3 separate regions of the Homo sapiens genome follow, and all the other regions are reported to be linked to region 2. The links are microRNA targets in miRTarBase. Many come from high-throughput screens and were not tested one by one. Region 2 holds a microRNA gene; each other region holds the end of a gene's coding sequence.
The links. The annotated mature microRNA hsa-miR-6879-3p reads UGUCACCCGCUCCUUGCCCAG and lies in region 2 at 1,375-1,395, shown strand. An mRNA with a match to its seed (bases 2 to 7 or 8) in the 3' UTR can be bound and repressed. Matches are read on the target gene's strand: a 7mer-m8 pairs with bases 2 to 8, a 7mer-A1 pairs with bases 2 to 7 and ends in A, and an 8mer does both.

Region 1: the mRNA of TCF15 is a reported target of hsa-miR-6879-3p. Seed matches in the 3' UTR shown: 7mer-A1 at 2,466-2,472.
Region 3: the mRNA of TMEM250 is a reported target of hsa-miR-6879-3p. The part of its 3' UTR that is shown has no 7-base or 8-base seed match.

Annotation. Positions count from the first base shown.
Region 1 is chr20:601,876-605,122 of GRCh38, forward strand. TCF15 (transcription factor 15) reads right to left here. Exons shown (of 2, transcript NM_004609.4): 2 at 2,382-2,790. The coding sequence ends at 2,716. Among named protein-coding and RNA genes, the nearest start is that of TCF15, 6.8 kb to the right of the region's middle.
Region 2 is chr11:65,017,176-65,020,422 of GRCh38, forward strand. It overlaps MIR6879 (microRNA 6879), which reads left to right and starts at 1,330; the gene lies at 1,330-1,395. It overlaps ARL2 (ARF like GTPase 2), which reads left to right. Exons shown (of 5, transcript NM_001667.4): 2 at 1,189-1,299; 3 at 1,396-1,558; 4 at 3,244-3,247. ARL2-SNX15 (ARL2-SNX15 readthrough (NMD candidate)) reads left to right here. Exons shown (of 11, transcript NR_037650.2): 2 at 1,189-1,299; 3 at 1,396-1,558.
Region 3 is chr9:136,113,772-136,117,018 of GRCh38, forward strand. TMEM250 (transmembrane protein 250) reads right to left here. Exons shown (of 2, transcript NM_152833.3): 2 at 818-3,247. The coding sequence starts at 3,129. The coding sequence ends at 2,710. Among named protein-coding and RNA genes, the nearest start is that of TMEM250, 3.5 kb to the right of the region's middle. RefSeq lists an enhancer at 3,050-3,247.

The DNA of each region.
Region 1 (3,247 bases), not on the chromosome of region 2:
CTCTACAAAATAAACAAATAAATAAAATTAGCCAGGCCTGGTGGTGTATGCCCGTATTTCCAGCTACTCCGCAGGCTGAGGTGGGAGGATCACTTGAGGACAGGAGGTTAAGCCTGCAGCGAGCTATGACTGTGCCACTGCACTCCAGCCTGGGTGACAGAGTGAGACCCTATCTCAAACAAAACAACAAAAAATACTCGGTGGGATTATCGTCTTCACTGTGGCTGTCTCTGGGATAAGTGATATTTCTAGAGTCTTATAGCATTTTGAATTTGTTTTACAATGAAAGCACAGGCAGAGAAACCTATAAATATTTTTTCAGAAACAGTTATCAGTATAGAAGCTTTTTTGGAAGGACACTCAGGAAGCTGCCTCTGGGGAGGGGCCTGAGGAGGTCTGTACTTTTCACTGCATACCATTTGATACAACTTGGATTACTTACCAGTGCATACAGGGTCTATTAAAAACTATCTCACAAAGCAAAACAAATACTTATCTTTCTGTTCTAGCTGCTCTTACTAGTTAGAGACTGAGCCAGGGAGGCCCAGAGGGGTCAAGCAACATCTCTGGGGTCACCCAGCAAATCTGGTGGCGGAGTGGGCCTCCAGCCAGAGCACCCAAGTGTCTGCTCTGCCCCCACTCCCAGGCTTCCTGCCATTGACAAGGCCACAGTCCTTTTCCTGTGGCTTTGCCAGAGGCTGGCTGTACCTGGGAGGGTAGGCGCAGGGGGAGCAATGTGCTTTCCTAATCAGCTCCCAAAGGGGGAAGCACAGCCACGCTGGGACACAGGATAAGCACGACCAGTGTTCCTGAAACAGCGGGGAAGTGAGGTAGAGGGTGCTTGGAAAGCTCTCCTGGGTGGGGGACCCCGGCCCCCTGGGGCCCTCCTTCCTCTACTTCTTACACCAAAGGAATTAAGCATGGTAATTTCATGGCCTGCTCCAGCCTAGGGACTGGCAATTCCACAACTCCCTTGATCTCCCTGGGCCTCGGTTTTCATCTGTGAGGAAGACCAGGTTGGTCGGGCTCATTCCTGTGGCATCTGGCACAGTGCCTGCCACACAGAGGGTATTGACAATCTGTTTGTCAATTTGCAAAATCGGAGCCACAATTCAGGCTCAGATGGTCAAACGCAGGGGAGTGGGGTAGAGGCAGAACAGAGGGGATACGAACGTGGACTCTGGGGCCAGAGTGCAGTCAGTAAACATGAAATAGATCACTTGAGCTCAGGAGTTTGAGACCAGCCTGGGCAACATAGTGAGACCCTGTCTCTAAAAAAATAAAAATAAAAGTGTTTGTTAAATAAATAAACTGTTGAAATAGGCATATGAATGTACCTTGCTGAGGAGAGGGTGGCTGCCTGGCTGCCCTGGCCTTTCCCTGGCTCTCCCACCCTCGGGCCTCTCGAGCTTCTCTGATCCTGACCTCACAGGGACACAGCCCCAGCCCGAGAGCCAAGAACTCCTAGCTGCACTGATCAGCTGACGCATCGCTGTCTCTGCTGGGTCTGCAGTGGGGAAGACACCAGCTCTCACCTCCCAGGGCTCCTGGGAGTGTAATTGGGGTAACAGGTGCTGGCTTTCCACTTGGGGCATCTCCAGGGCAAGGAAGGAGCTGCTCTGGGCTTCAAAGGTGGACGGACCTCAGGGTGTCACCCTGCCACGTGCCTCTGGGTGTCATCGGTCTTCTAAAGCATTTCAGCTAACACAGGGGTAAGAATATTCCCCTTTAGCATGCACTCATTTGCACTTGTGGAAAACCACATGGCTTGTTGGTGATCGCATCAAAGAGGGATGGGTTAAAGGATGGCATGTTCACAAAATGGAATAATAAGCAGCTCAGGAAGAAATGAAATACCCTTTAGGTACTGACTTGGGATGATACCAAGCTAGATTAAGGAAAAAAAGAAGGAGCCAAAAGTGTGTACGATGTGCTGTCATTTGTGTATTTGCCTGATCATTCATAGTGAATGGGACATCACAGGAAACTGGTGCCCTAGGCTGCTTGCAGAGAGGAGAGCTGGTGGCTGGAGGACAGGGGCACGGAGACTTTTCAACACATACCCTCTGGTACCTTCTGAGTTTTGAACCATGTGAATGAAATGAACACAGGCCTTATTCAAAAATAAGTAAAATTAAGATTTCTTTACCAACCATATCAGACACCTAACAGTTGTTAAGAACATCTGATAAACAGCAGACTGAGGAAAGTTTGGTTATGGCGCCCGGAGAGGGGGCTCTGCCTGCCTTCCCCCGCCCCACCCCCACCCTTCCAGGGCTCAGGGCAGCCCCCAGAACATCTGTGCCTCTCTCTAGGTCCAGGGGAGGGCCCACCTCTGACCTCCGATGTCCACGGGACTCTCCTCAGCTCAGAACGACGTCTTTTATTTAAAAATAGCTTTTATTTTAAACTCACCAATTCTCTCTCACACACACTCACACTCACGCACAGATACACACACACCCTGTCACCAACAGTCTTTGTTTTTCCAAAAGTTCTGCCTTGTCTCTGACCAGCCAGAGCTGGGCAGGCTGAATGGATCCTCACAGCTCTCCAGGATCGGGTGGAGATGTCCCGAGGGCCCTGCCCAGAGTGTCCCGGAACAGGCCATGGTCCCCCGGTCCCTACACAAAGAAGGGGTGGGCTTGGCTCCTGGGGTCTTCTTCCCTGTCCAGCCAGTGGCTGGCTCCTGGCCTCCTTCTCCAGGGTCCAGGCTCATCTCCGTGGCCCTCGAAGGGGGGCCACCCCCCTCACCTTCAAGCAGCTGCCCCCCAGGTCACGACGGCCACCCTGCAGAGGGGGAGAAAGAGTATAAAGAGGTTCGATTAGGCCAGTGTGAACACTGGAACTAACCTCTGTATCCCTCAAGAGGGATCCTGATCAATAAATCACAGTTCAGCCACACGATCAAGTTCTCTGCAACAGAAAGCAGAAGAAACCCTTTCTGGACTGATACAGACTGCTGCCAAATGACAATGTTTAGGGACAAAAGCAAGGGGCAGGCTGAATGCGCCTGTGTGCTGTGATTGCTGGGGAGAAGCACACACGGGAAATTGTGAGTGGGTTTCTTCAGAGAGGAATTTGATGATGGAGAGAGGATGGGAGGGAGGCTCTCTCATGCTATACTGTTTTTTGAGATGGAGTCTTGCTCTGTTGCCAGGCTGGAATGCAGTGGCACAATCTCAGCTCACTGCAACCTCTGCCTCCCGGGTTCAAGTGATTCTCCTGCCTCATCCTCCCGAGTAGC
Region 2 (3,247 bases):
AGATCAAGGGCTTTGTTTGCTCTTTTTTTTTTTTTAATCAGACGGGGTCTCGCTGAGTCGCCCAGGCTGGAGTACAGTGGTGTGATCTCGGCTCATTGCAACCTCTGCCTGCCGGGTTCAAGCAATTCTCCTGTCTCAGCCTCCCGAGTAGCTGGGACTATAGGGGCCCGCCACCACGCCTGGCTGATTTTTGTAGTTTTAGTAGAGATGGGGTTTCACCTTGTTGGTCAGGCTGGTTTCGAACTCCTGACCTCAGATGATCCACCCACCTTGGCCTCCCAAAGTGCTGGGATTACAGGTGTGAGCCACCGCGCCCGGCCTATTTGCTCTTTTTAAGGTGGGAGAAAGAACGGCAAGCTCATCAGCCAGTGGGAATGATCAAGAGGGGAAGGAAACATGGATGATGGCTTGGGGGCAGGGGGTCATCAGCGGCTAGGTTCCAGGGGCTAAGGCTGGGCCTCAGGGGAAATGCCCTCCTCACCCCTCTCCTGGGCCTAGGTCATTTGCCCCAGCTCCGATGAGCAGGGAAAGGTGGTCGAGTCCAGGACCCGCCCACCCCACCATGCCCAACTGAGCTGCAGTGTTGGGAAGATAGAGGAGGGTGGTTCCTTCCACAGGTAAGCACACCCATTAATTTGCACTGTGCAGTAGCAGGTCTGGAATATTCCAGAAACAAATGAGGGTGGCTGCCTCCAGATATTTGTTCTTACCTTAGTTCTTCAAAAAGCTTGCTCCTTGTATTTTGGGTCTCAGCTCCAGACACCTCAGAGAGGCCTTCCCCGGCACCTGAGCTGAAAGAGCCTCCTCCGATGGCCCTCTTGGAAAGCCTCTCTGTTGTGTTGATGGCGCTAGCCGGGATCTGGCAGGGCCTTCTTTTCTCATTTGTTTGTACTTTATTGACTGTCTTCCCGCTAGAGTGTAAGCTTCCTAAGGGCAGGGCTTTGTCCTCTAGCACCCAGAAGAGGGTCTGGCACATAGTAGGTGTTCAACAAATTAAGGAGCCTTTGGTCAGTAGAGATGATATTTATAATTTGATACTTTCATATTTATTGTGGGCCGATTATGGTCAGGCATGTGCTCAACTCAGTTTGATACATGGTGGGAAATAATGAGTCCCCTAAGGGGCTCTGCAACAATGTCACCACCTGGCAGAGAACAGGGACTTCTCCTTAACCTGCTGCGCCCCAGTGGCCTGGACAATGCTGGAAAGACAACCATCCTGAAGAAGTTCAATGGGGAGGACATCGACACCATCTCCCCAACGCTGGGCTTCAACATCAAGACCCTGGAGCACCGAGGGTGAGCAGGGGCCCCATGGGAGGGCCAGCCCAGAGCAGGGCAGGGAAGGTGGGAGAGGGGCCCAGCTGACCCTCCTGTCACCCGCTCCTTGCCCAGATTCAAGCTGAACATCTGGGATGTGGGTGGCCAGAAGTCCCTGCGGTCCTACTGGCGGAACTACTTTGAGAGCACCGATGGCCTCATCTGGGTAGTGGACAGCGCAGACCGCCAGCGCATGCAGGACTGCCAGCGGGAGCTCCAGAGCCTGCTGGTGGAGGAGGTGGGCAGCTCCTACCCTTTGTGTACATGTATGGACGTGTGGCTGCCTTCTCAGCAGATGCCCAGAGGGGCCCGTGGCCCCAGAGGGAAACCAGAGGCAGGATCCCTTCCTTCTCTGGGCCCCCACCATGGGAGGCCCATGGTGCCAGAGGCAGGACACATGCTGTGGACTGAGATTGAGTTAACGTCCCTGTGGTGTTACTACGTCACTACCCTGAGCATCAGTTTCTATGCCTTGAAATGGTGATGATGACACCCACATCACTGGGCTTTAGGGAGGATAACCCAAGGCCAGTATGAAGCTTCGAGAGGCCATGGAGCCTGGCTCAAGAGTCTGACTCTTTGCTGTGTGACCTCAGCTGGGGGTGGTGGCACGCACCTATAGTCCTAGCTACTCTGGAGGCTCAGACAGGAGGATCAGTTGAGCCCAGGAGGTTGAGGCTGCAGTGAGCTGTGATCGTGCCACTGCACTCCAGCCTCCTGGGCGACAGAGCAAGACCCTGTCTCAAAAAAAAAAAAAAAGGAAGGGGCCAGGTGCGGTGGCTCACGCCTGTAATCCCAGCACTTTGGGAGGCTGAAGCGGGCGGATCACGAGGTCAGGAGATCGAGACCGTCCTGGCTAACATGGTGAAACCCCGTGTCTACTAAAAATACAAAAAATTAGCCAGGCATGGTGGCGGGCGCCTGTAGTCCCAGCTACTCAGGAGGCTGAGGCAGGAAAATGGCGTGAACCTGGGAGGCGGAGCTTGCAGTGAGCCGAGATTGTGCCACTGCACTCCAGCCTGGGCAACAGAGTGAGACTCCGTCTCAAAAAAAAAAAAGAAGGACACTTGCAAAGATAGTACAGAGGTCAGAGGTCCCCCATATACCCTTTACCTTGCTTCCCCATCTTACCTAACCGTGGCCTGTCCAAACTAATAAATCAACACTGGTGAATTACTATTATCTTAATTACAGATTTTATTTGAATTTCACGTTTTTCCACTAATATACTTTTTGTGTTCCAATGTTTGATTCAGGCTACAAAATTGCATTTAGTTGAAAATGAGGACACTTGTGAGAGTGAAAGGGGGGATTCTGCAGGCAGAGTGGGGACTGTCCTGGGCACACCGCACACATCTCCTATGTGGGTGGAGCAGGTCAGATGAGATCAGGGCCGTCAAATGCTGGTCAAGGCAGGTCAAGGCCCAAGGGTTAGACCCGTCCACCCACATCTCTCCCAATCACAGACACATATGTGGAAACAACTAGAATCAGAGGTGGACAGTGAGGCCTGTCGGGAGTGGAACGGTTAAAGGGCTGTGTGAACCCAGAAGAGGGAGAGTTCACATCCTCTGTGCATGTCTGGTCATCAGATTGGAGCAGTCTAGAACCACGGAGAGCTCAGGGATCATCTTATGCAACACCCCTCCCTGTTCATGGAAGAGGAAGCTGGAGCATGGGGACAGCGGTGTCCCCTGGGTGGTGGTTGGCTGGAACCAGAACCCTGGCCCAGGGCTGCTCCATTCATGTGGGCCAGCCTTGATGGCTACGTCCACAAACTCACTCCTGGGCCTCTCCCACCACCACGGGGCCTCACCTTGATCTTCCAGGTCGATCCTTCACCCCAGATGCTCTGGGCCATTAGAGGAGGGGTCAGGCTGTCCTCTGAGTCCCCACCCCACCCCTCTATCTTTTCTCCCCCAGCGCC
Region 3 (3,247 bases), not on the chromosome of region 2:
GTGATCCTCCTGCCTTGGCTTCCCAAAGTGCTGGGATTACAGGCGTGAGCCACTGCACCTGGCCTCAAACGGTTTTTTTGGATAAATAAGAACTTTGGTTTTATTTTTCTTCCAACCTTTTTTCGTGTGTGCGCATCTTCCCGAGGTGGATCGGGCTGTCCTTACTCACAGCCCTGAGGCCTCTTTCCTTTCAGCAGCGTCGGAAACACCACCTCAGCTTTAAGACTCTGAACTAGGCTGGGTGGAGGGGCTCACGCCTGGAATCCCAGCACTTTGGGAGGCTGAGGCAGGTGAATCACCTGAGGTCAGGAGTTCAAGACCAGCCCGGCCAACATGGCGCAACTCCATCTCTACTAAAAATACAAAAATGATCCGGGCGTGGTGGTGGGCGCCTGTAATCCCAGCTACTTGGGAGGCTGAGACACAAGAATCACTTGAACCCGGGAGGTGGAGGTTGCAGTGAGCTGAGATCGTGTCAATGCACTCCAGCCCGGCTGACATGAGCAAAACTCCATCTGAAAAAAAAAAAAAAAACTCTGAACGGGCCAGTCAGCCGAATGCAACCTCCACCGGCCTGCACAGCAGTGTCCCGGTGACTGCCCTGCTGACAAATCTTTGCCTGTCAGCTAGGCTATCTCCCCAGGGCAGCTTCCCATAAGGAGAACCCTGGCCTCAGGGGCTCCTTCCCCAGCACGGCAACAAGTGTTTGGGAAAACTTTCCCATCTTACACAAGATGATTTCTATGGTGCTCTGGGTGATTATTATGTCCTTCAAAACGGAATAAAACAATTGAACTTTAAGCAATCACTCCATCAACACATTAAAAAAATAGGTTTAATGCAGGTGGGTCATGGCATGACGAATTTCACAGGCACCGGGGACAGCAGGCGGCCAGGTGCTCAGAGGGCACCAAGGTGCCACAACTCCCTGCAGCGTTGACACCGCACGAGCGGCACCACCAGCCCCCTCCCGCCTCCCGTCCCACCTTCACCCTCAGCCAAGAGGCTTGGGTGACTCTGAGTAATACGTTAACAAAAAACAAAGCTTCTTTGAGGAAACAGCATGACTTAGTGCAAAAGATTCTCTGCAGCAAGAAATGAGGCCCACGCAGGGAAGCTCCCGCCTACCTGCCCAGGGCGTGGACGCAGCCCGGGCTCATCAGAGGTCATCCACAGAAGCTGCCGATAAATTAGAGAGCACGGTTTACGGCCAGAGATTTTTTGCTTTCTCTACCTGATTTAGGGTTTTTCAAAAAGTTTCTCTTCCAGTGGCACACAACTGTCCTCATGGCTCCTGGGCCACTGGTCCGCCTGACAGGGTAGGGTCACAAGTCCCACCCATGCCCAGAGTGTGGGGACATGGATTTGAGGTGACACTAGGGTTGTCAGTACCACACCCTGTGTCCTGCTCTAGGGTAGCCTCTGCCTGTTGTCCTTGCAATCATTATTCAGGGCGCCCTCCCACTTGCCCCCAAAGTCACACGGCCATGGGCAGTCCACCATAGTGCTGCCGTGACTGCAAGGCTGAGGAGCAGAGCAAGGGGTCCTGGGTGAGACCTCGGCCCATGGTGGCCACCCTCCCTGAACACAGGCATCTGCGCCCCTCCAGCCCACCTGCCCCTGTGCCATCATTTGGGCCCCCCAGACACTGGAGGACAGCGTGAGATAAGATCTCAGCATATACCTGGGGCTCTAAGATGCTGCTGGTGCCACACAGGCTCTGGGGCTGTGTTTGCCGCACTGAGGCCTCTGCCGCCTGCTCCGGACACTTGGGACACGCGTTTCCATCCTGGCTCACTGAAGCCTCGATCTCCCAGGCTTTCTTTGACGGTGTTCCCTCAAAGAAAGAGGCCCAAAGCCCTCCCCCGCAAAAAAAGCCAGAAAGGAATGGAGGTGCCTCCGCAGAAATCCAGAGCATCTGCAAGACATCCTCACAGCCCTCCCAGAACAGGCAGACAGGCCAGTGTTGCTGGAGTCAGCCCCTGGCTCCCAGGGTTCCCCCCAGGCCAGCCCCTGAGCTGGGAGCCTGCTGAGGCCCCTCCCACCTGAGCCCTTCTCCGGCCCCCCGCTAGACTGCATCTACACAATCCAAGGGGACCCTGAAGGCTGGCTGGGGACTCAGGACCCACACAGCCCCTCAGGATGACACACACAGGGTGGTCCGCGGGCAGTGCCAGGCCTCAGGCGGCCCAGGGCAGAGTAAGCAGCTTTGTGGCAGTGTGGTGTGTCAGCGAGGGGAGCCTTCCGTGTCCCGTTGGCTGGGGCTGGGGCCAGGGCACGCAGAAGGGGCTGTGCAGCCAGGAGGGCCCCCCTCCGGAATTGCTCCTGGGCACACAGCCCTCTGTGTCCAGGGGCCTCCCAGGGTGATGTCTAAAGTCCCTGGCAGCTGTGGTCCTGGAGAGAGGCCCACAGAGAGGCGGAACGGAGGGCCCACCCCGCAGTACGACCCGAAGACATGTGAGCAGGAGCCACCGGCAGGTGGGCGCTGCCCCTGAGAGTGCATACGGGGAGGGTGGGTCCAGGAAGCCAGCCTAGGGGTGGTGTCCGCGCCCCCATCACAGAAGTCTCAGCCCTTTCTTTTCTCTCCGTGGGCGCCGGGCAGCAGCGACTGCCTGGGGGATGGGCGAAGGGAAGGCGCTGGCCGACCCCACCCATGGAGAGAACACAGCCACAGGCCGGGACGATACATCAAGCTCGCACCCACGGCCCTCACATGTCCACGAAGACCATGAAGCACCAGCCCAGGCCCCCGACCAGCAGCATGGTGACGTGGATGCCATAGACGAGCAGCTCGTTCACCAGGCGGAAGTCCACGCGCCGGCGGCCCAGCAGCAGCAGCAGCACCGACAGCTTGCGCTGGAAGCGCAGCAGGACGCGAACGCCCAGGTACTGTAGGCAGAAGAGGGCGGCCAGCGCACCCCAGAGCGCCGCAGTGAACAGGCTGCAGCTAAAGTAGAGTAGGAAGCGGATGAAGCCGTACAGCCAGCGCGTCTTGATGTACACGTCGAAGTTGTTGTACTTGGTGCGGGCCAGGTGGGAGGCGCGCACGGGCCCGCAGGCCGCATGCAGGCAGGTGGTGTGCGGGCCGTGGAAGGAGCGCACCCGCCGCGGAATGGGCATGACCGGCATTGGGCCCCGGCGGCGGCGGCGCTAGGTCGCAGTGGCGGCGGCGGTGTCCAGGCGGCTGTTGGCGTAGGGGTCATGGGCGCCTAGGCCTGGGAGCCCGCAGCTGACCCTGGGGGGAGGC